Linked DNA regions of Homo sapiens: regions 2 and 3 are each linked to region 1. Evidence: fine-mapped expression QTL. A gene starts in region 1. Each other region holds a variant in brackets. All regions are shown on one strand. Distances are between the middles of the regions.

Region 1 (7,452 bases):
CGTCCCTCCACCTCCCAGAGTGTGGTGGGGGAGGGGCAGCTTTTGACTAGCTGAGCCTGTCACATTCCCACACCTTAGCAGAGTTGGTGGGGGGGTTAGAATTATCTGACTATCACCATGTGGAGCGTCTTCCAAATCTAAAAAGAAGTTCAAATTTTGGGCCGCCAAAAACCTGACATACAGCCGTCCAGTCCTGTTTCCTCTGAGCTTTTTCTCCTTTGGACAGACGCCCTGTGTTCCTTCAACTGAAACTCATGGATGAGGCCTCCGGATCCCTTACCACATCGTCATTAATTTTTGGTACCCAGAATTGGAAGTAATCTCACAAGTCTGAGGTACAATGGGATTATTTTTTTCCAAACCCTGACCACCCCCCACCTTAACTTTCATGAAGGCATCCGAAGATTTCGTTACTTCTCTAGTCAGCCATAGTACATAGATGACTCATGTTGGCTCATACAATGCTTGTGGTCAACTGAAATCCCCAGATCTTTTTAGGAATGGCTGTAAAGCCAGGTCTTCTCAATTATTTACTTATATAATTGGCTTATTGAACATGTGCAAATTTAACCGAGTAACATAAGACTGTATTTGTAATACTTCAACTATTTAGTTCACACCCTCAAATTCCCTCACGCTGTAGCACAGTGTACTTGGCTACTTCAACCAGAAATTGTAAACTGGCGGTCTGTAGGCCAATTTGACCACACATTTATTTTGTTTGGCTAATATGGTGGTTTTTGAGAACTAAATCGGTTGCCAACTGTTGAACATCAGGAGATGTCATGTAAAAAGCAGCACTTCCAACTTCTCTTGAAAGGTATGAAGGTCTAGCAACATTTGGTCGTCATTCCCCCAGGGCTGGAGCTGGGCAGCAGCTACTTCCTCTGAAGGGTGCAGACAAAGCTCACTGCAGTCCCCACCAGGCCCTGTTGCCTGGGGTTCACCCTGCTTCGTTAATTTCATGCCCTGCCCAGTCACTGTGGACATCTGGGTGCATAGTCTGTGTGTCCTGTGGGTGCTGGTTATGGCAGGGGCAAAAGGGGTAAAGTGGAGAGAGAAGAAAGCTGGGAAAGGTGGGCTTAAGTGGCTCTCTCTTGCTCTTGTCTGTCTTGGGTCGTGCAAGATAAAGATGTACTGAGGGCAGAGATGTGGCGGTGAGCTTCTGGCACGGGCATCTGTGGTTCTGACTGCCCAGCACGGCAATTCTTCTGGAAATTCTCACTTCTCCTGTGTGACTACAGAGAGTGCTGCCAGGTTCCAGATGATCCTGCTCCTGTGGCCAAGGCACACGGGTCCAAAGAGTGACCACTGGTCCATACTAGTGATAGAGTTTTAGAACTTCCAGGAGTGGCTGATGTTGTTGGAAGAAAGGCTCATGAAGATTTGACCGCATTTTCTGTCATGTGGGTTGGGAAGCAGAGGCAGCTGGTGCAAGAAAGTGAAGGGTTGAGTCATCAACTAGAGACAGGGACAGCAACACACACTGCAGGCTCTATCTGTGCTAATCTGGCTCAGCTCTTAGCCTGGGATCCTATGAGATGCCTCGTATTATTAGTGTATATTCTGCTCCCTTTAAAATTTACCTAGAGTTGGTTTCTGTTGCTTGCAACCAAAAGCACCAGGGCATGTCGTCACAGGCCGTCCTTGCTCTCTGTGAGCCCTTCCAGTGCCTGATGGGTCCCCTCTTTATGCTCCCCCTTGTCTACCATCTGCTCTTGGATCAAGCATCCTGGGTGCTCTAAAAAATTCCCCTTGTTCCTGAGCAAGGGTAAGAGTGAAAGGTGGCTCATGTGAACATGTTTCCATGCACTGCGAGGTGTGTGCCCTTCCTTCGGCCCTCAAGGGAAGCCAGGCAGCTCTGGGATGCTTTCCATCTCACCCTGTTGTTGGCGCTGATGTAAATCATACAGATGGAAATCCACATTGCTGAGAGACATCCAGGTTAAGAAAGCCACCTGCTGCTATCAGAAGCAAAGTTTCCAGGGACTAGCATCCTGATATAAGCACAGGATATGTGTAATTGAGATACTAAGATCTGCCTTCAAATCACCAGTAGGTGATGAGAGAGAGAGAGAGAGAGAGGGAGAGAGAGAAAGAGAGACGTATCCTTTCATTAATTCTACAAATATTTATTGAACACCTACTATATGCTAGTCACTGCCCTAGGCACTAAGGATATTACAGTAGAAAAGATCTGTAGCTTACAGAGAGCTTACATTCTAATGGCATGTAAACTTTATGTGTTAGTTCTGTGGATACAAAAATGAAAATTCAGCCCCAATGGCTTTACAAGTATGAATATCACTTTCCTCATTTGTAAAATGAGTTTAAAATAATTATCACAGGTTGGGCACCGTGGCTGGCGCCTGTACTCCCAGCACTTTGTGAAGATGAGGTTGGAGGATCTCTTGAGCCCAGGAGTTTGAGACTAGCCTGGGCAACATAAGGAGACCCTGTCGCTACAAAAAATTTAAATTAAAAATTTAGCCAGGCGTGGTGGCGCACCTGTAGTTTCAACTATTCAGGAGGCTGAGGTGAAAGGATGGCTTGAGCCCAAGAGTTTGAGGCTGCAGTGAGCCGTGATAGCACCCCGCGCTCTAGCCTGCCTGACAGAACGAGATCCTGTCTAAAGCTATGGAAGTAAATATAAATAAATAAAATAATTATCTGGCAGAGCTGTTTAGAGGATTAAATAATATATAGCACGCTCTTGGCCTTTTAGCCTCAACAAATACTACTTTTTTCCTTAATAATAACAGAAAGATCATACAACTTCACAAACCACAAGGACAGGCTGGCCGATAGGCAGGCCCCCCACGACTCTTCTGATGTTAGCCCTGACTGAACTCGCTGTGCAGCGTCCAACCAATCCTGGTTTGTGCTGGGCCCTGGACTGGAACCCAGCCCTTCCCGACGGGAACGCAAAGCGGCCACGAGGGGGCAGCGCACGGCAGGGAATCTTCGCCGCCGACCCCAGCCCACCGCCAAACTTCCCTGCTGCTCTCGGTCCTCCTGTACGTACTTCCGTTGCTCTGACGCTCCCAGAAGCCGGGGCGTCGGGAAGGAGAGCGCGAATTCACCCTCCTCTGCGCCTCCGTAGGAAAAAATTGGAGCGGGGGTTCACGAGACTGCGCCGCGGCGGGCGCTAGAGCCCCTCGCACAGCGTCGCCAAGGGTGCGGCGTGGAGCCGGGCGCCTGGCGCCAGGGTGCTGGTCGGCGGGCAGCGGCGCCAGCCTCCGACCCGCGACTCCGGCGAGCCAAGGCTGCGCCGGGAGGAGTCGGCGCGGGCCCCGGGGTGCCCCCTTCAACTGGAGCGCCTTCCCCTCCTGCCTTGCGGCGCATCCCCACACCTACACCGGAACGAAGCTCCGGGGCTGTCACTTCTGCGCGCTTCTCGGAAAGGAGTCTGAACTGGGAGCGCTCCGGGGGGTCGTCGGGGAGGATGCCCGGGCGTCGGCTGTGTCCCCAAGCTGCTCGCCGGCGCTGGCGAGGAAGGCAGTCGGGATAACGCCGCCCAAACTTTCCTTCGCAGCAGCGTTGGCAGGAAACGTCCCTCTCTGAGGCTCACGAAAAGCCGAAAAAGACTCGGACGCTTGGAGGAGGCAGGGCCAAGCCTGCGCAGGAGAGGTTCCCCGGAGCCCTGGAGATGTCCTAGGGGACCAGGCTAATCGCCGGCTTGCGCCCAAGCGAAGGGAAGTCCTGCAGGCACGGCGCCTCCTTCCCTGAGCCCCGCAGTGACCGTGACCTCCGCGCGCACCCCCGCGCACGTGCTCGCGGCCGAGGAAGAGGAACGGTCCTGCTGAATCCTCTGGAGGACAGCGACTAGCGAGCAGGCCAGGGGCGCATGGAGGTGCCGCGGGGGCGGTGCGGCTCGCCAGCTGCGCGGAGGAGCGTGCACGCCGCGCCCCGGCCTCCCCGGGGACCTGGCCGGCCGCTGCCCGCACTTCCTGCCGCTGGTCTCCCAGGCGCGAGCCGCCGCTTGCAGCACAGAACCCGTTGAGCTTCGTGCCCGGCAGCACCCCCGGTCCCCCGCGCGGGGCGGACTTGCGGCGGGACAGGTGTAGCCCGCAGCCGCAGGCGCTGCGCTCAGGACTGGGCGGGCTCGGCTGGCCGGTCCCCGCCACGCAGGCCGGTCCCCGCCACGCAGGCCGGTCGGTGAGCCACTTCGCACCGCCACAGCCCTAGCATCGGGCCACCAGCCGGGGTGAAGAAAGTCACGGCGGAGCCCGGCTCCCCAGTCCTGATGCTGGCTGCCGGTGGCGGGCTCCACGCCGGCCCCGGGACCTAGGCAGCCGCGCGAGACCGCTGCGGGCGCCTCCCCCATGCTGCTCGGAGCGTCCTGGCTGTGCGCATCCAAGGCGGCCGCCGCTGCTGCGCAGAGCGAGGGCGACGAGGACAGGCCAGGCGAGCGACGGCGGCGTCGGGCGGCGGCCACCGCCGCGGGGGCGGGCGAGGACATGGACGAGTCGTCGCTGCTGGACCTGCTGGAGTGCTCCGTGTGTCTGGAGCGCCTGGACACCACGGCCAAGGTGCTGCCATGCCAACACACTTTCTGCCGCCGCTGCCTGGAGAGCATCGTGTGCTCGCGCCACGAGCTGCGCTGCCCCGAGTGCCGCATCCTGGTGGGCTGCGGCGTGGACGAACTGCCCGCCAACATCTTGCTGGTGCGACTGCTGGACGGCATCCGTCAGCGGCCCCGCGCGGGCACCAGCCCCGGCGGCAGCCCGCCCGCGCGTCCCATCCCAGGCCAGAGTGCGGCCCCCACGCTCGCGGGCGGCGGGGGCGGCGCGGCAGGCAGCACCCCGGGTTCCCCGGTTTTCCTCTCCGCGGCCGCGGGCAGCACCGCCGGCAGTCTGCGGGAGCTGGCGACCAGCAGGACCGCGCCGGCGGCAAAGGTGAGTATCTGTCTCGGCGGAAGTGGCCACGGCACGTGGGAGTGTGTGGGTGGGTGCTTGGGCGTGGGGGGCAGTGATGAGGTGCGGAGGAGACCACGGGTGGTCCTGCGTTGGCCCACTCCGCTGTTGCTCTTCCTCCAACTTCGCTTGCTTGGTGGCGGCATCCGGCCCCTGGGCAGCTCGCCGCTTGTTCACGTGTGTCCCATCCTCCTGTGGAGTGGGCACGCCTTCCTGTCCCGTCGCTCACCCCCGATTCCTTGGCCGGACTTGTTACCCTGCCTCTTAAACTTAGCATCGCCCTTGCGTCTCCCTAGAAACGGGGACCTTCTTCCTCTGGGTCCCCAGACACTCCCTCTGCACACCCTGGGCCTGCCTAGAGAAAAGTTAGCCCTTAACGTTTCTGACAGGGCTCTGATGGCTGCTCTGGGAAGCCCGCGGGCCTCCTGCCTGCGGTGTGGCTAAGGAGGGGAGGGCAGAAGGCAGAGTGGGACTGGGGTTTGGAGGAATGCTTCTAGTAGTCTGGAAGGAGTTAATCTGGAGGCCCCAGGAGCCTTTTGACCCAGCCCTTTTGGACTTGGCAGTGTCTAACCAGAAGCCAAGGTCTTCTCCTGGGCTCCCAGGCAGGGTTGCATTCCCACGGGGGTCATTTATATTTATTATTATTATTTTTGGTACAGCCGCATTTTAGGGCCTTCGCTGCTTCTGTTTTAGACGAAAGATCTTCTCTGGATGGCTTCAATGATTTGGTTTTAAAAGCTTCTTACAGCTTCTTATTACACACCCTTGCCACCTTGTGAACAGTTACCAGGAGAGAGGGCATGGGATGCTGGTTTAAATGAGAAAAGAAAGGACCCGGGTTTTGTTAATTTCTTTAAATGGAGAAAAGCACTTAAATGTTAAAAAAAATACATTATCTATTGGAATAATCATTTGCTTTAGAAACACAACTTTATTCCTCTACTTTTGACCATTTAAGGAGTTGGTGATGCCTAGTCCTTCCACTATGTGTAATCCTGAAATGCTGGGAACATTCTAGCACCTGGATTAGGCAGTACTGCAAATCTCTAAGGTTAAGGTTAGGAACTTAAACCCTTGGATGTTGAGCTTGAGTTAAATGCCATACTTTGCTGCAATGGGTTTTTTTTTCTATGGATCAGGAAGAATGGGGACAGTCAAGGATAGTCACTGGGGGTCACTTGGGGGGCACTGCTGAAGGGGAATTTTTTTCTTTGGTTTTAATTGTGATTAAATCCAGCTAAATGCTTGCGTTAGAAATTTTCAAACTTTTCCTTCCTGGCCTTGCTGTTTTTGATGTAAGGTATTTATAATTAAATATCTTTATTTGCAGAATAAGTGGGTTACCTTCTTCTGTTCTGATAAATTATGTGATATTCGGAGCCCCGCTTCTAGTAAAACGCTGGGACATTCTGATGACCATCTGTTTACAGATGTCCTCTCAGTTTATCTTGGGGGACTTTGTGTTTGACCAGGAGGTTAGGAGGTAACCTCTGACATGTGACAGGCTGAAGCTTTGATGCCACTCCGGGAATTCTGTGGCATTTGTAGTACCTTTTAGAACTTGTCAAAGGGGTTGAAGCTTGGAACTTTTTAGTAGTGACATTTAGTATTAGCAGGAAATTGATGTTTTACTCACCATATGTTGAGACCCTTGGTTGACTTTCTTTATGGGTGCATAGTCATGTTCATGACTTTTTGTGTTTTTGGGATGTTTCTGGATGTTGTTTAATAGACGAGCACTTATTTAACTAATAAGCAGGAGTCCCGCATGGTGTATTCACACTACACTAGCACTATACTACCATGCTGGGATAATAGCATTAGGTCCAGCACATGCTTCGGGAGTGGGAAGGATTGTAATAGCATATCAGGCATTGAGCAACCCTATACAGTTGGTTGACAAAGATTTCGGCTGAAAATTACTTTTGGTACTTTACTGTCCATTGGAATTGCTTGACTCCTGCCAGGAAAGTTGAATGCTGGATGTTGTTGCATGTTGTTTAATAGAGGGGCACTTATTTAACTAATATGCCATGATAGCAGGTAACCATAAATATTACAGTCCCATCATTTTCCAATTAGAAGCTCCTTACATCTTCTTTTGGGCCAATTAGGGTATGTATACTTTTTAGGTATATAGGTAAGTATTGGCATAGCTTGTTTACTTTATTAATTTTGTTACGGTTCAATATTTTGACAGCTTTATTTAAAAAAAAGTTTTAATTTCTGTTTGGTTTTACTGGCAGGACACAAAACAGTGTTTTCCTGAACTCTTTACCTGTTGTTTTTCATCGGTTTTGGTGATCACCAGAGTACTTGGAGTCCCCTGACGTGGTTAGCAGAACCTCTCAGCTCTGCTCTCACCTGAGCCATTTGAGATAAAGCGCTTTTGTGGAGTCAGTTAACGATGCTGCCCCTGGAAATAATATACCCAGTGACGAGTACCCATAGCCTAAGATCAGGAGTTGGTCTTTTTATTTGCCTGTTGGCAAATACTATATGTGTGTTGCTTCTTAAAGTGTGTTCATATGTGTTA
Region 2 (7,452 bases), 76 kb after region 1:
CTATGTGCTGTTTCATGTCACTCCTCCTTGGGCCCTGGGTGCTGTTGGGATAGTGCAGACCTCGCAGTGGCCCGGGGCCCACCCACACTGGCACCCGGGCTGCTGCTGGGGACAAAGGGGCAGCAGCAGCAGCTAAGTGGCTGTGGGGACCTGGGTGGGACCCTGTGAGCTGGAGCTCCAGGCTGAAGCAGCCGTGCTCAGGGACTCTCAGTTCTCTCCCCTGTCCCTCAGCACAGACCTTATTTTATATCAGGTACGGCTCTGGCTTCACACGTCTTCCTTCCGGCGGCCTCTGCATGGCTGCAAGATGCACGGTCCTGAAATGATGCTTTAGTTTTGCCTCTTCTGCACTTAAAAACTCATTTTGCAAAGTGAAAATTTTGCTGGCCTTGTATTTGAAGCCTTTCACAGACAGACCCCAGCCCCACTCTCCCACAGGCCTCCCTGATCTGTGACCTAGAACCCACAGGTACATGGCCTGGGCTTTGGGCCTTGGCCCCTTGCCTGTGTGCAGGCTGTTTCCCGGATCTCTCTGTCTCCAGGCACACATCCAGGTATCTCAGCCGCCACAGGCCAGCAGTCCCACCTCTCTCTCTCTTATCTCTCTCTCCCCCTGGCTACCCCAGGCCACCCTTGCTGTCTCCTGCTAGGGTCTCCCCTCCCTGGTTTGGAAGTTGCTCTCCTCCTCTTTCAGTTTTGAGGTCTCTGAAAGTGTGATCTGGGACCATGCCGGGCCTCTCACAGCATGGCCTTCGTTTGGGACGTTTGTGTCAGGAGGCAAGTGTCTGCCCACTTCTCCAGCCCGTCAGCAGCATGGGAAACGCTGCGCCTTGCATGGAGAGCCACGTACAGCCCAGGGGCACAGCCAAGCGGTGAAAGGAGCATTGGTAGGAAATGAGCTTTGGGAAGTGGGTATAAATGCTGCTCAGCTGATCTCTTGGGTTATTTAAATGGGGCATAGTGCCCTCCCTCCAGGGAGAATTATGTCCTGTGTTGCTAAGCCTCCTACCAATGAGTCTGACACATCTGAAATCAATACAAGGACCCGTGGCATCATAAAAAAACTGGTGGAGAAGCAAATGTTTTAATTAAAGTAACCTGTAATATGTCCAAAGGAAACGGGACACAGGCACAGAACCTAGGCCACATTGTATTTGCCTTGGAGCCTGGCTGGGTCTCGTGACAGCACAGCTGGCAGGAGGCACACAGCCTCCCCTCGAGGCGATCTCGGCCACTTTCTCATCTTGACAGATCAGCATATGGACGCACTTACAGCTTGTAGATGAACACGGGGAAGAAAACAACCCTTCTCTTCCCTCCCTTGTTTCCCAAGCCACCTGTGGACTGCAGAGTGAGGATGCGGCCCCCACCTTGCCTCCAGTGCTGCCTCCCAGGTCCATCTCGGCAGCGTCTGGACCCCCTCGGAGGGGAGCGATGGATAATGAAACTCCCTAGGAGTGTGTCTCGGCTGCTTTGGGCTTTCCACTCTCTGTTTGAGATTTTGTGAAGGGACACCTAATTGCCCGAACTTAATTGTACTTTTTAGTACAATTACTAAATGTAGTACAATTACAATTACACAGTACTTTTTCTCTTTGTCCCTGGGGCGCGTTCTTGTTCCTCACATGTCTGGGTAGCTGGTGGGTGGTCAGCATGGCTGCTTTCTCCTTCCCCTCCCAGCAGTCAGCAGTGATTATTCTTTAAAAATTGAGAATTCCTTTTTCAGAGCATAGAGGGTGAGGCGTCAGCCCGGCCCCAGGAACCTGGGTCCTGGGAAAACAGCCAGCACACAGCCTTGGGTGAGCACCTTCTCTCCCTGAGCCTCAGTTTCCCCATCTGGAAACGCCACGGCCTTCCCGTGGGGCTGTCGACAGCCCTTCCCATACTATGGAGCTCTTAGGATCATACACACATTTAAGCAAAGGGGGTCGAGAGCCCCATTCCCGGGAAAGGGCCCAACTTTAAGTGTTGCAGAATTTATGGACTGAACAACTGCTTGGCTGATTAGCACAGTTTTGTCCCGATAGTAATGTTTTAGAGTGTAGGTGTCATGGAAGGAATGCAAACACAATGGGAGCTGGTCTTGTGCCTGAGGATAACACTTGTGCCTAACAAGGTAACACTTGGGCCTGAGGATACTGGCCTGGCCATGGTCCTACAGTGATTGGAGGGGAAGAGGCTCCAAAGGCTACAGAAGCTCCGTCGAGCCTGGAACACTGGTGGCCCTGCACGGTGCCCTGGGCCTGTCCGTGTCCTCAGCAGTCAAGGAGCACTGTCCACTCATTGAGTGACATCCTCATTGAGGATGCCTTGCCCGCAAGAAGGACCCTGCAGAGAGCCAGGAGCCTCTTCAGAGAGCCCCAGGGCAGCATCAGGATGAGGCAGGCTGTGTGGCTGTAATTAAGAGGCTACAGGTGGCTCTCTCAGGTGGACGCAGCAGACAGTGGCGCAGATGCGGCGGAGCTTGCTAGTCCTTATGCTGCCCTGTTGTGAGACGGATGGCCTTGGGAGGGTGTTTCCGCGTCCCTACGAGCGCATCACCTGTGGTCAGGCGATCACTGTATCCCTGGCCATGACATATTCTTTAAGTCGCTTCTTAGTTCCTAAGTCCCACCGCTCCCCATTGCCTCCTGAATGCAGTTGCTCTGATCCCAGGGCATGCATTTGGAGCCCTCTGGGACTGCTCCATGTGGTTCGTCCAGCTCTCTGGAACACTGTTCTCCACTTTCCCTTTGCACGACAAGCATCGTGGCCCTGTCTCTGTGCACCCCATGTGAGTGTCCTGGCCCTGTGTCTCTGTGCACCCTGCACTTCCACCCCCTGGGCCTGGAGCCCCATCTTCTCTCCATGGGTATGCTCTGCCCAGCCCACAGAACCCACATACCTTTCACACCCTCGGTCCATCCATTCCTGCCCTTTGTCTCATGCACGCCTCGACTCTGAAGCGTTTGCTCTCTTGTGTGGGTGCCTCGCTACCTACCCCTGGGCCCTTCTTGTTCCCTGTGCGGCCTGGCAGCCCTTGATGGCAGGGCTGATGTGTGTGCTGTTGTGGCCCCAAGGCCTCCCAGCAGAGCATCTGCACGGTGCTCCAGTGTGAAGCATTTGTGGGCTTGAAGGGGCTCTGAGTGTGAAAACCCGAGTAGTTTATATCTTTGAGACGTCAGGAGGCCATTCGAAAAATGCCTGGATTTGCACCTCCTGCCCACTGGCTGTCATGAACAGTCTCAGACAAGGCGAAGAGGGTAAGGAGAATCCAGTGAAGGTCTGTCTCTTCTCCATTTAGATTCAGCCATTAACTCTGCCACATCTGCTCTTTCCTTTTATCTGTCTGTATGTCTGTCTGTCTGTCTTGGGTGAACCATGAAACTTACTTTGCTTATGCCCTGTTGCTTCATTCCTAGATAATTTAGCAGACACCTCTGCAGAATAAGGGCACTCTTCTGTGATCCTGTTATCTCACCTAAGAGAGTTAGCAG[G/C]AATCTCCTTATCTTATCTTTTAAATCATTATCAATACCAGTTCACATTCAGGTTTTCCTGATTGTCCCTTAAAAATCTGCTGTAGTTTTTGTTAAAACTGGGTTCACTTGTGGCTTTTGTTATGCCCCTCCAATCTCCCTTATTCTAGACTAGTTTCTCAACATTGTACATATATTTGTGTGCAATGTACAATGTACACATAAATGGGTGTGTTCAGCAGCGTCCCTGGCCTCCATCCTCCAGGTGCCGGCAGCGCCACCTACTCCACCACCAGGTGTGACAACCCACACATTGCCAGGGACCTGCTGGCAGGCAGGATGCCCCATTGGAGAACTGTTCTAGCAGTCTCTTACTTTGCTTTTGAAGGTATTGACCCTTTGAAGAGACCAAGCCAATTATTTTGTCAAATGTCCTGCATTCTAGATTTATTGGGTCATTTCTTGATGGTGCCATTGAACTTGTTTCTTGATTCCCTGTATTTTCTGTAGCGTGGAAGTGGGGGCTAAACTAAAGGCTTTTTTGTGTTCCAGGGAAATAATTTTAGAAGTCTGCCTTTTAAAGTAGAGCAACTGGGTGGGCATGGTGGCTCATGCCTGTAATCCTTGTGCTCCAGGAGGCTGAGGCAGGAGGATCACTTGAAGCCAGGAGGTTGAGACCGGCCTGGTCAACATAGTGATACCCTGTCTCTACAAAACTAAAAATATTAACTGGGCATAGAAGTACATGCCTGTAGTCTCAGCTACTTGGGAGGCCGAGGTAGGAGGATGCCTTGAATACAAGAGATTGAGGCTACAATGAGCCATGTTTATGCCGCTGCACTCCAGCCTGGGCAGCAGAGTGAAACTCCGTCTCTAAAAATAAATAAATAATAAAATAAGATAAAAAAAATTAGAGCAACTTATGTGACTTTTTTTTTTTTTTTTTTAAACTGAGTCTTGCCATGTCGTCCAGGCTGGAGTGCAGTGGCTCAATCTCAGCTCAAGAGATTCTCCTGCCGCAGCCTTCTGAGTAGCTGGGACTACAGGCATGCATCACCATGCCTAGATAATTTTTTGTTTTTGTTTTTTGTATTTTTAGTAGAGACAGGGTTTCACCATGTTGGCCAGGCTGGTCTTGAACTCCTGACCTCAAGTGATCCACCTGCATCCACCTCCCAAAGTGCTGGGATTACAGGTGAACCACTGTGCCCCGCCCAACTTATGTGACTCTTTATGCTCACACAGAAACTACATTCTAGGGGTGCAGAGGGTATATTCATCAGATGGGAGAAGGCCACGGTGAGAATCACATGGCTCAGTCTGTTGGTGTCAGGGTCTGCACCGTATCTGCCCTAGATCTCTGGGCAGAGGTGTTGTTTCGGGGCAGTGCACTTTGCTCACTGGCAGGAAGGCAGCCCCGCTCTGTGCAGCCTTCCCCAGCAGCCTCCCTGAAGCAGCGGGGGGATCAGAGACAGGGAAGCACACTGTGTGTGTAAAATACTCTTGAGCCTAAAGTTGGAGTTTTCTCCTTTCCGCTTCCTGTTTTTTCATAGAAACCAACTGAAGGGTTATGAATTATTTGTTGACTTAAAAAAGTAGATGTGTGTTTTTCTGAGCTCTTTGTAACATTGAGATTTACCATGTTTACTCCAAAAGTGTTTCAAGGCCAAGTAGTAGTTGGAGACTAACCTGGTGAACTGTCACTTGTACCCTGAGATGCCTTTCCAGCCTCCGCGGTGGGCATTGTATGACCTGCACGTGAATGGATGGGTGACCCAAGCCACCCCTCTCTCCCTGGAGGTTTTGCTTGGTGTAGAATGTTATTCTGGGGACACAGCACTATATTTTTAACTATGGTCGAGATTAGAGGAGGCTGGGCCGGGCACGGTGGCTCACGCCTGTAATCCCAGCACTTTGGGAGGCTGAAGTGGGCAGATCATGAGGTCAGGAGATTGAGACCATCCTGGCTAACATGGTGAAACCCTGTCTCTACTAAAAAATACCAAAAATTTGCCGGGCTTGGTGGAGGGCACCTGTAGTCCCAGCTACTCAGGAGGCTGAGGCAGGAGAGTGGCGTGAACCTGGGAGGCAGAGCATGCAGTTAACCAACATCGTGCCACCGCACTCCAGCCTGGGCGACAGAGTGAGACTCCGTCTCAAAAAAAAAAAAAAAAAAAAAAAAAGAATTAGAGGAGGCTGAGTGTGGTGGCTCACACCTATAATCCCAGCAGTTTGGGAGGTCAAGGAGGGAGGATAGCTTGAGGCTGGAGTTCAAGACCAGCCTGGGAAACATAAGTAAGACCCTGTCTCTACAAAAAAAAAATTTTTTTTAAATTAGCTGGGCATATTAGTGTATGCTTATAATTCCAGCTACTCAGGAGACTGAGGTCAAAGAATTGCTTAAGCCCAGGAGTTCAAGGTTACAGTGAGCTATGATTGTGCCACTGCACTCCAGCCTGGGTGACAAGAGAGAGACACTATTAGTTACTTAACTCTGGCATTTGCTATTTCTGCACTAATTGTCAAAGTTGACTGAGCATTCTCAGTGCCCCTTCTGCCCAGTCATGGGCCATAAGCTTGTGTTTGGGATAGCATGTCTCTGTGTCATGTGTGGCTTGTTATGGTTGCCTGGAATGAACTTCAACACACCTCTGTTTGGCTGAGCGCTGCATTTGCAGGAGGTGAGAACCACTCAGGGCCTGAGGCAGAACCTGACCATGCTCATTTGGAGGAGAGGGCCTGGGGAGCTTAGTGCGCTCAAGAAGAAGGCAGATAGGGCTGTGTGTGCTGTAGAGGATGATAAACTGGGGGTGAGGGTGCAATGACGACACAGTGCCACATTTTAGAACTATGCTCTCATCTTGTGCAAACAGGTCTGTTTACAGCAGTTCATTTTTATGAGTTACAATTATTATTTCTGGATAATTTTGGTGTATGGTAATCATTAGAGTAAGCTGTGTGTCTGATTAAAGAATTTGTCTCTAATTTATGCCAATTTAAAGATGTCTTCTGTGTTCTCTTTGTCTCTGGGGGAGGGAAGCAGGTTGCTATGGAGACAACATAAGAAAAAGTGACAGGCAAGAAGGCTTGGCAGTTTCGATTTTGAAAATATTTGTGATGTAGGTAATTATATATGTAATAATGTTATGCAGCAGAACCATCTGCCTTTGGAGAGATGCATGTCATGGAATTTCATGGTAAAACAGTGTTTCTCTTAGGAACAAAATGTTATTTGTGTGCTATTAAGATATTGAAATTGTGGAAAATAAAGATGCAATGGAGCCCTAAGATTGTTTCCAGGGGTGCAGTTGCTGTATGATGTAAGGTGCCACCTATAGAATTTGGAAAGCTATTTTCACATGGAAACAAAACATTTGTATAGGAAGACTTACCTGAGACTGAATTATTTTATGTTGTAAATTGCTAAAATCAACTGTATTCAGGTTTATAACTGATTTTGATCAGTTTAAATGGCACAATTTTCTTTTTTAAAAAAAATTAAACTATACCTCATATTGTTTGGGGACCAATTTAACAAATTGGCCTATGGCAGTTTCCCTGTATCATCATTTTCCCAGGGATCTTGGCTTAGTTTTGCTCTAATCTGGAATTCCTTCTTTTACTCTTACACAGTTGAGCATTCCCCCTCCCCCATTTTTAAATTCTGGTGAGATTTAAAAGAAGAAGAAACTTTAGCATGCGATTTGTTAAATTCAACAATTCTGCAAATATTTACGGAATGCCTGTGCTGGGCACAGTGCTGGGCCCTCAGACACACATGCTGCTGCCCCCATGGGCTCAGAGTCTGAGCTTAAGCTCTGCTGAGACAGCATGCAACTGCCCTGTGGCACCTACCTGGCTCTGCTGGCAGAGCAAAGCTGAGGTTTTAGTTCACATCTTCATGTGATGGATTCGATATGGTTGCAGAATTGCAGATCCACAGACACTCCTGCCACCTGCAGGTGGGGCATATCCCTTCCCTTAAACCTGGGCTCCA
Region 3 (7,452 bases), 110 kb before region 1:
GCTTCAACATATGAATTTGCAGGGAGATACAAACATTTACCATGTAAATTCTATTCACTGCTAAGACACATGATATATTGTGATGGCATTTCTCTTCTTGCCCATCTTTTTGTTTCCATAGAGTTAAAAATTGCTCAGGATTCCAAGGAATCTATGGAGGAGGCTCAGCAGCAGCTGGATGGCAGAGGCCCGGCTGCTACAGGTGAGCCTACAGGTTGCTGACGATGTGTGTGAGCTGCAACCACTCCTGGTTCCCTGCACCCACCTTTCCACTGTACATGGCTGCTGCTTCACCTTCACCTTCTCAGTCTCATGCAAGGTGTCTCTTTGGCCAAGGCTAGTCTGGAACCATTAAGGGAGGAAGTTCTGGGGGACTAGTCATACTCTGTACCCAGTGCACTGTGTCATCTTAGGGTCACCTTTCATCACTCAGATGAGTTCTTTTGCCTTTTTTCTTTTGCGTTAGATCCCATTTTCTGGGAAGCCCATGTTTTCCTTTTTATTAGCTTATATTCTTGTTTCTGTTGAGCACATCTTCAGGAACAATTACAGAACAACTGGAATTCATAGGCTGTGAATGTTTTGAGGTCTTGAATGTCTGAAAATGTCTCCATTCCATACCCTTCTTTATTCATAGTTTGGATGGGCATAAAATTCTAGGTTAGCGATCATGTTCTTTAAGATTTCTAGCCTTCAGTGTTGCCATTGGGAAGTGCCAAGCCATCCTGATTCCTGGTCTTTGTATGTAATCTGTTTTCTGTTTGTTCTTTTCTCCATAAGCTAATAGGGTCTTTGTTCTCAAATTTCTGAAATTTTATGATGATGTAGCACAGTGTGGTTCAACTTTCACCCATTGTGTTGGGCGCTCAGTGGGCCCAAATTTTATTGACGAGATACCCACCTTCATTTGCTGCGTCCTCTCTCTATGGAACTGCTGTTATGAGGATATTGGAGCTCTGGAGCTGGATCTTCTCATTTTTTCCTCTGCTATTTTCTGTTTTTGTTTGTTAGTCTTTTTCCCTCCTCTACTTTCTGGGAAACTTCCTCACTCACCTTTACTTGAATTCAAAACCCATCTATTGAATCTTTAATTTCTGCTGTAATTTCTTAATTTCCCAAAGCTCTTTTAATTCTCTAGTCATTCCTTGAAAATAGTGAGTGTGCATGTATATGTGTGTGCGTGTATGTGTGCATGTGTGTGTGCCATGTGTATGTGCATATGTGTGTGTGTGTGTGATTTTACTCTTTTCTTTTAGATGCAACATCTTCCCGTACCTTTCTGAGGACACTAATGCCAGTGTGATTGCAAGTCACTTTCTTCTGTTTTTCGATTCGTCTGTTTTTGTTTCTGTGTTTCACATTTGAATGTTTACCCAGATATTGGGTTATCTCCCATCATCTTCTCATATTTAAGAGCGGAAGATTAAAAATCTCTTTGGCAGCTCTGAGGTTTGCTGACTTCAAGCTCTATTTTAGGGTGACACAGCAGAGCCACATCTTTGGGAACTCACATCATTGGTGTCCTCAGGATTTTCCTCTTGGGCTGGACAGTTTGCTCCCCTGGAGGGTATGAGCCTGACTGCTAGTGGGCCAAGAGCTGCCTGGGAGGAAAGGGTGGGGGGTCTCCACACTTGGGGTGCCAACATTCCTACCGCCCCTGATTCCCAGCGGTGGCTCTGTCTTCAGGCGTACCTGGCATCCTTCGGTCTTGAGAGCCCCCACAGAATCTACCTTGAATCTCCTCCCACGCTCCTTTTCCCCCCAGCCCTGGGATTGCAAAGCAGAAGGAACGGCGGAGAGGGTCAGGGACTCTTGCTTCTTCAGTGGCCCCTCCGGCACTTCACAGAATGACAATGAAGCCCAAGCTTCTGCTTTTAGCCCCTCCTCCACCCTGCTTTCTCCTCTTTTCCTTAGAAAAAAAAATTTTTAAACTTCATTCGGCCAGGCGCGGTGGCTCACGCCTGTAATCCCAGCACTTTGGGAGGCCGAGGCGGGTGGATCACGAGGTCAGGAGATCGAGACCATCCTGGCCAACACGGTGAAACCCCATCTCTACTAAAGATACAAAAAATTAGCCGGGCGTGTTGGCGGGAGCCTGTAATCCCAGCTACTCGGGAGGCTGAGGCAGGAGAATGGCGTGGACCTGGGAGGCGGAGCTTGCAGTGAGCAGAGACCAGGCCACTGCACTCCAGCCTGGGCGACAGAGCGAGACTCCATCTCAGAAAACAACAACAACAAAAAAAACTTCATTCAGAGAGAGGAACTTTGTATATTCCGGAGGAAAAGTGGCTACAACCTGCCAGGACTCTTTAAAGGGCCGAGTAGGGCGAAACTCCATGCTCACCACAGGTGAGTTTAACACCTAACACCTTATTTAAGATTTTGCAGAATTCCAGCCAAGGAGCCTGTAATTGACAACACTGGCTCAGCCCAGTGGCTGCTTCACATGGTTTCTCTACTTCTAATGACATCAATTTCTCTCATGCCAGTAGTGCCTTCCTTTGGCGAGCAACTATGCAATAAGGACATCCGCTTCCTTCGGCGCTTGATATCAGCCAGGGGATTAACCTGTGCAGAGGTGACTTGTTAGTCATCAGTTACTGCCTCACCAAAGTGAGGTCAAGTTCACAGCAGGTTTTTGCAAAGCTACGTTTTTATTGTCAGCATAGGAAGCATTTTCTTACACATGCAATGGATGGTTCACTTTAGAGGCACATCTGACCACTATGAGAGTTTGTGGGAGGCATCAGTGCACTTGGGTTACAGACAACTGAATAAAGTACAAATACATCATTAGAAAAGCAGAGGGTGTGTGCTCCGGTGACGTTGCAATAAAGCAATTCTTTGGCATACACATGGTATATGTTTATATTGCAAAGTGCAAGGCAATCTCTTTCCAATCTTTTTTTTTTTTTTGAGATGGAGTCTCACTCTGGGGTGCAGTGGGGTGATCTCGGCTCACTGGAACCTCTGCCTCCTGGGCTCAAGCAATTCTCCTGCCTCAACCTCCTGAGTAGCTGTGATTATAGGCACGCGCCACCACCCCTGGCTAATTTTTGTATTTTTAGTAGAGACGGGATTTCACCATGTTAGCCAGCTGGTCTGGAACTCTTGACCTCGTGATCTGCCCACCTCAGCCTCCCAAAGTGCTGGGATTACAGGCATGAACCACCACACC[C/T]GGCCCTTTCCAATCATTCTTAATGGCTTATGCCTATCACCATTTCTGGCTTGTTACTAAAGTTGGAGTTTTGAAAGTAAATTACAGTTATTTTGCTCCTCATTCTTGAGCGACAATGGAGACATTCCAGTTCTGAGCTTGCTGGATAGTGCAACAAGCCAGCTGGAGGTTGAATATCTTAAGGACAAAATTTGATATGCATTGTTTACCAACCAGCAAGCCTTTCAGCTCTACAATAAATTGATTTTTTAGTAAGCCATTGAAATCCATCAGATTATCTCCTGCTAGATAATAATGGTCTCCCCCATGTGAAGAGACAGGCTTTCTTTCAGCAGGGCTGCCCAACAGCCATTACTTTAGGAAAATGGAGTTGAGAGACACAAGGATCCTGGATAGGGATGAGGCGAGACACCCACGCTGTGGTGAAGACCAGGTGGCCAAAACCCAATTTGAAAACCCTGATGTGGATGTGTCCTGGGCCTGTTCTCTTGGAGCAGGACCTCCCTGTAGTTTGCATTCTTCTTCTCTCAGCTTGAACCTCTTTCCTCAGCACCTGTGGTTCATATCTGTTGAGCAAGGGGGAAGACATTTGTTGTCTGGGTGATGTTCAAAAACACAACTGTGTTCTTGAGCCAGTTTCTATGTTAAGTACAACCAAGGTCTCACTGGTGACCTTGAACAAAACAGAAGTAACCTTTGTTCTTCTGGCCAGTTCCAAGTCCTCGGAACCTACAGTCACAAGCCACACATTTCTGACCAGGTTTTCCCATGCCTGGAGCCTGTGTGGGCCTTCCCCAGTTCACTGGCAGAGACCTTGCTGTGGTGTTGCAGGATGCACGTGTGAGAGGCGTGCAGGGCGCAGAGCCAGACACGGCTCTAGATCCCAGCCCCAGCATGAGTGTGGTGCAGGCAAGTGACTTAATGTCTTTCCTCCTCATTCTCCTCATCTACAAATAAAGATAGTAATAGGCTGGGCGCGGTGGCTCACGCCTGTAATCCCAGCACTTTGGGAGGCCCAGGTGGGCGGATCACGAGGTCAGGAGATCGAGACCATCCTGGCCAATATGGTGAAACCCTATCTCTACTAAAAATACAAAAATTAGCCAGGCGTGGTGGCACATGCCTGTAATCCCAGCTACTCGGGAGGCTGAGGCAGGAGAATTGCTTGAGCTAGGAAGTCAGAAGTTGCAGTAAGCCGAGATCACGCCACTGCACTCCAGCCTGGCGACAGAGCGAGACTCCATCTCAAAAAAAAAAAAAAAAAAAAAAAAAAAAAAAAAAAAAAAAAGATAGTAATAGAACTCAGAGAGTTGTGGTGGGAACAAATGTGTTAATACAGTTGACCCTTGAACAACCTGGGTTTGAACTACTGGGTCCACTAACAAGTGGATTTTCTTCCTTCTCTGCGACCCAAGACAGAGACAGCAAGACCAACCCCTCATCCTCTTCCTCCTCAGCCCACTCAATGTGAAGATGTTGAGGATGAAGTCCTTTGTGATGATCCACTTCCCCTTAATGAATTGTAATTATATTTTCTCTCCCTTATGCTTTTCTCAGTAACATGTTCTTTTCTCTAGCTTGCTTTATTGTAAATACAGTATATAGGCCGGGCACAGTGGCTCATGCCTGTATTCCCAGCACTTTGGGAGGCCGAGGTGGGTGGACAATTTGAGGCCAGGAGTTCGAGACCAGCCTGGCCAACTTGGTGAAACCCTGCCTTTACTAAAAATACAAAAATTAGCTGGGCATGATGGGGAGTGCCTGCAGTCCCAGCTACTTGGGAGGCTGAGGCAGGAGAATCGCTTAAACTCAGGAGGTGGAGGTTGCAGTGAGCCGAGATCATGTCACTGTACTCCAGCTTGGGCGACAGAGCAAGACTCTGTCTCAAAAAAATAAATAAATAAAATAAAAAAATAAAGAATACGGTATATAATACATATAACATATAAAATATGTGCTAATCAACTGTTTATGTTATCCGTAAGGCTTCTGGTCAACAGCAGCTTATCAGTCGTTAAGTTTTTGAGGAGTTGAAAGTTAGACACGGGTTTTCAGCTGTACAGGGGTCGGTGCCCCCACTTCATGCTGTTCAAGGGTCAGTGGATATATGAAGTGTGTATAGCACACATGGGGCATCTTAAACTGCATTAGCATTCGTATGCCTGTTATTTTCTTCACAGTTGTGGTAGGTGGTGTTATTGGTTTTTTTGTTTGTTTTGTTTTGTTTTGAGACGGAGTTTCGCTCTGTCGCCCAGGCTGGACTGCAGTGGCGTGATCTTGGCTTACTGCAAGCTCCGCCTCCCGGGTTCACGCCATTCTCCTGCCTCAGCCTCCCAAGTAACTGGGACTACAGGCGCCGGCCACCACGCCCGGCTAATTTTTTTTTTTTTGTATTTTTAGTAGAGACAGGGTTTCACCGTGTTCACCAGGATGGCCTCGATCTCCTGACCTCACGTCTGCCTGCCTCGGCCTCCCAAAGTGCTGGGATTACAGGCGTGAGCCACCGCGCCGGGTGGATAGGTGGTATTATTGTTACCAACCTTCCCCCTTTCCTTCCCATGAGACTTTGAAGTTCTTCCACCAGAGGCAGAATGTGCTTCCTCACCATTTGATTTGAGGTTTGACCATGTGACTTGCTTTGGCCAGTCGTGTGTGTTTAAAGGACACATGCCAGTCCTGATCCTAGGCGTCCCGAGGTTAGCATGTTTCCACATGTGCTCGTGAGCTTCAAACCTCATCCACGAGAGCAAGCCCGGGACCTGGCTGCAGGGAGCAGGAGAGACATTGAGGCAGGGAGGCAGGATTGGCCCTACCTGCTGCCCAGAGCCAAGCCCTGCTGGCCAGTGGGCTCCCAGCCAGGCGACGCCCAGGCAGGCACATGCATGTGAGTGAGAATAAATGATTATGTGAAGCAGTGAGTTTGGGGTGGCGTTTTATTTGGCGTAATTGTGGCAGTCGCTGGCAGATACAACAGGAGAGTTAATGGGGTGGAAGTTCATGAACTGCTATGGAGGGACGCAGGAGGGGAAAGAACGGGATACAATTCCCACTGCCCCCTATGGAAACTCGGGTGTGAAAGGGTAGGATGACTAGTCTGAGGTCTGTGATTTGGAGACAGGAAGCTGACTTCAGAAGGTTTGCTCCCTGCCTCCCATGCAAAGCATGGCACCAGGGAATATATAGTTGTTCTGAATGTGCTGAGCATAGTTTCCTCAATGTTTTTCTATCTTGACTTATTCTCCCATCATTTCTCTTAGCAGCACAGAGAGGGCTCTCTCCCTTCAGTCACACCCGGTAGAAACCTTTGCCATTCTCTGCGTGCCAAAGGCTCATGCCACAAACAACTGGTCAGAGTTCAGATCCTGGAAGTGGTGTGTTTCTTTGTGCATGCCATGAATATGTCACAACTTTTCCAAAGCTCTGGGGGCAGCTGAATGATTGAAACTCTTTGATACGATCCTGAGGCCCTCTGGAGTCATGGGCTTGGCGCCTGGGCAGCCCCTGTCCCTGCTGTCCATCAGCTTCTGAATGAGAGAGAGAGCGAGCAAGTGGTGGAAGCAACAAGAGACCTTGGGAATCACAGGATGGCGTGGGGTCGCTCCTGCTCTTGGCTGGCCTGGCCTCATCCACTTCCAGCCTCTTTCCTCAGCAGCTCCTGGGCAGACCTCAAGAAAGCCTTGTTTGAAATGCAGGAAGACCTCAGAAGTGTTTCCTTGCCAAGTTTGGTTGAAGCTATTTTTTTAAATTGCTCTTTTTTTCCAATCTCTTTTTTGTAACAATTTATTTATTTTGATGGGCAGAGCTCATGTATGAGGTCAGTGGATATTTTAGCATATTGTTGTATCACCTGTGAGGATATGAGACCCTTGGAATCTTAATAACAGCATATTAATGATGCATTCAGTCTCTGGGTACCCACACCTGCACTAATCAGTTCTTAGGAGCAGAGACCATGTAGGCTGGAAGGGGTGAAGACACCTTCTAAATCCCCCGTTGTTAGGCTGAGCACGGCAATCCTCACTGTTATGTATCCTACTGTCTTTGCCTTTGAAATAATGCACTGGTATTTTACCTGAGATGGTGGAAATGGTGGTGGAGATGGAGAGAATTCTAGTTAAATGACAGATGCAGGCTTGACTTTGCAGTCTCACAGATGTTTCATTAATTGGCAGTAATGATGCCTGCTCAGAAAAGGGAGTTTGCACCAGGAAGCATTTTCTTAAAATCAGACCATTACCTCAGAATTAGAATGAACAAAGACAGAGTCGGGCAGG

Which allele goes with the higher level. Alleles are on the strand shown, and positions count from the first base shown. SD is a standard deviation of normalised expression in the study named. Not every link is listed here.
With allele G in place of C in region 2, the expression in lymphoblastoid cells of the gene that starts at base 3,990 in region 1 is higher (moderate effect, 0.56 SD a copy in TwinsUK).

Evidence for each region. PIP is the estimated chance that this variant, and not a neighbour inherited with it, causes the effect.
Region 2: its variant is the best candidate, but not a certain one, in a credible set for the expression of SH3RF3 in lymphoblastoid cells (TwinsUK, PIP 0.70).
Region 3: its variant is the best candidate, but not a certain one, in a credible set for the expression of SH3RF3 in whole blood (INTERVAL, PIP 0.83).

Annotation. Positions count from the first base shown.
Region 1 is chr2:109,125,216-109,132,667 of GRCh38, forward strand. SH3RF3 (SH3 domain containing ring finger 3) reads left to right here and starts at 3,990. Exons shown (of 10, transcript NM_001099289.3): 1 at 3,990-4,898. The coding sequence starts at 4,326. It overlaps SH3RF3-AS1 (SH3RF3 antisense RNA 1), which reads right to left and starts at 4,904. Exons shown (of 1, transcript NR_029193.1): 1 at 2,112-4,904. It also overlaps a transcript of RANBP2 not described here. RefSeq lists silencers at 3,206-3,265, 3,646-3,715, 3,726-3,775, 3,806-4,005.
Region 2 is chr2:109,200,878-109,208,329 of GRCh38, forward strand. All of the region lies in intron 1 of SH3RF3 (SH3 domain containing ring finger 3), which reads left to right. It also overlaps a transcript of RANBP2 not described here. Among named protein-coding and RNA genes, the nearest start is that of MIR4265, 63 kb to the left of the region's middle. The variant G/C (reference allele first, on the strand shown) is at 3,477.
Region 3 is chr2:109,010,694-109,018,145 of GRCh38, forward strand. It overlaps a transcript of RANBP2 not described here. Among named protein-coding and RNA genes, the nearest start is that of EDAR, 25 kb to the left of the region's middle. The variant C/T (reference allele first, on the strand shown) is at 3,179.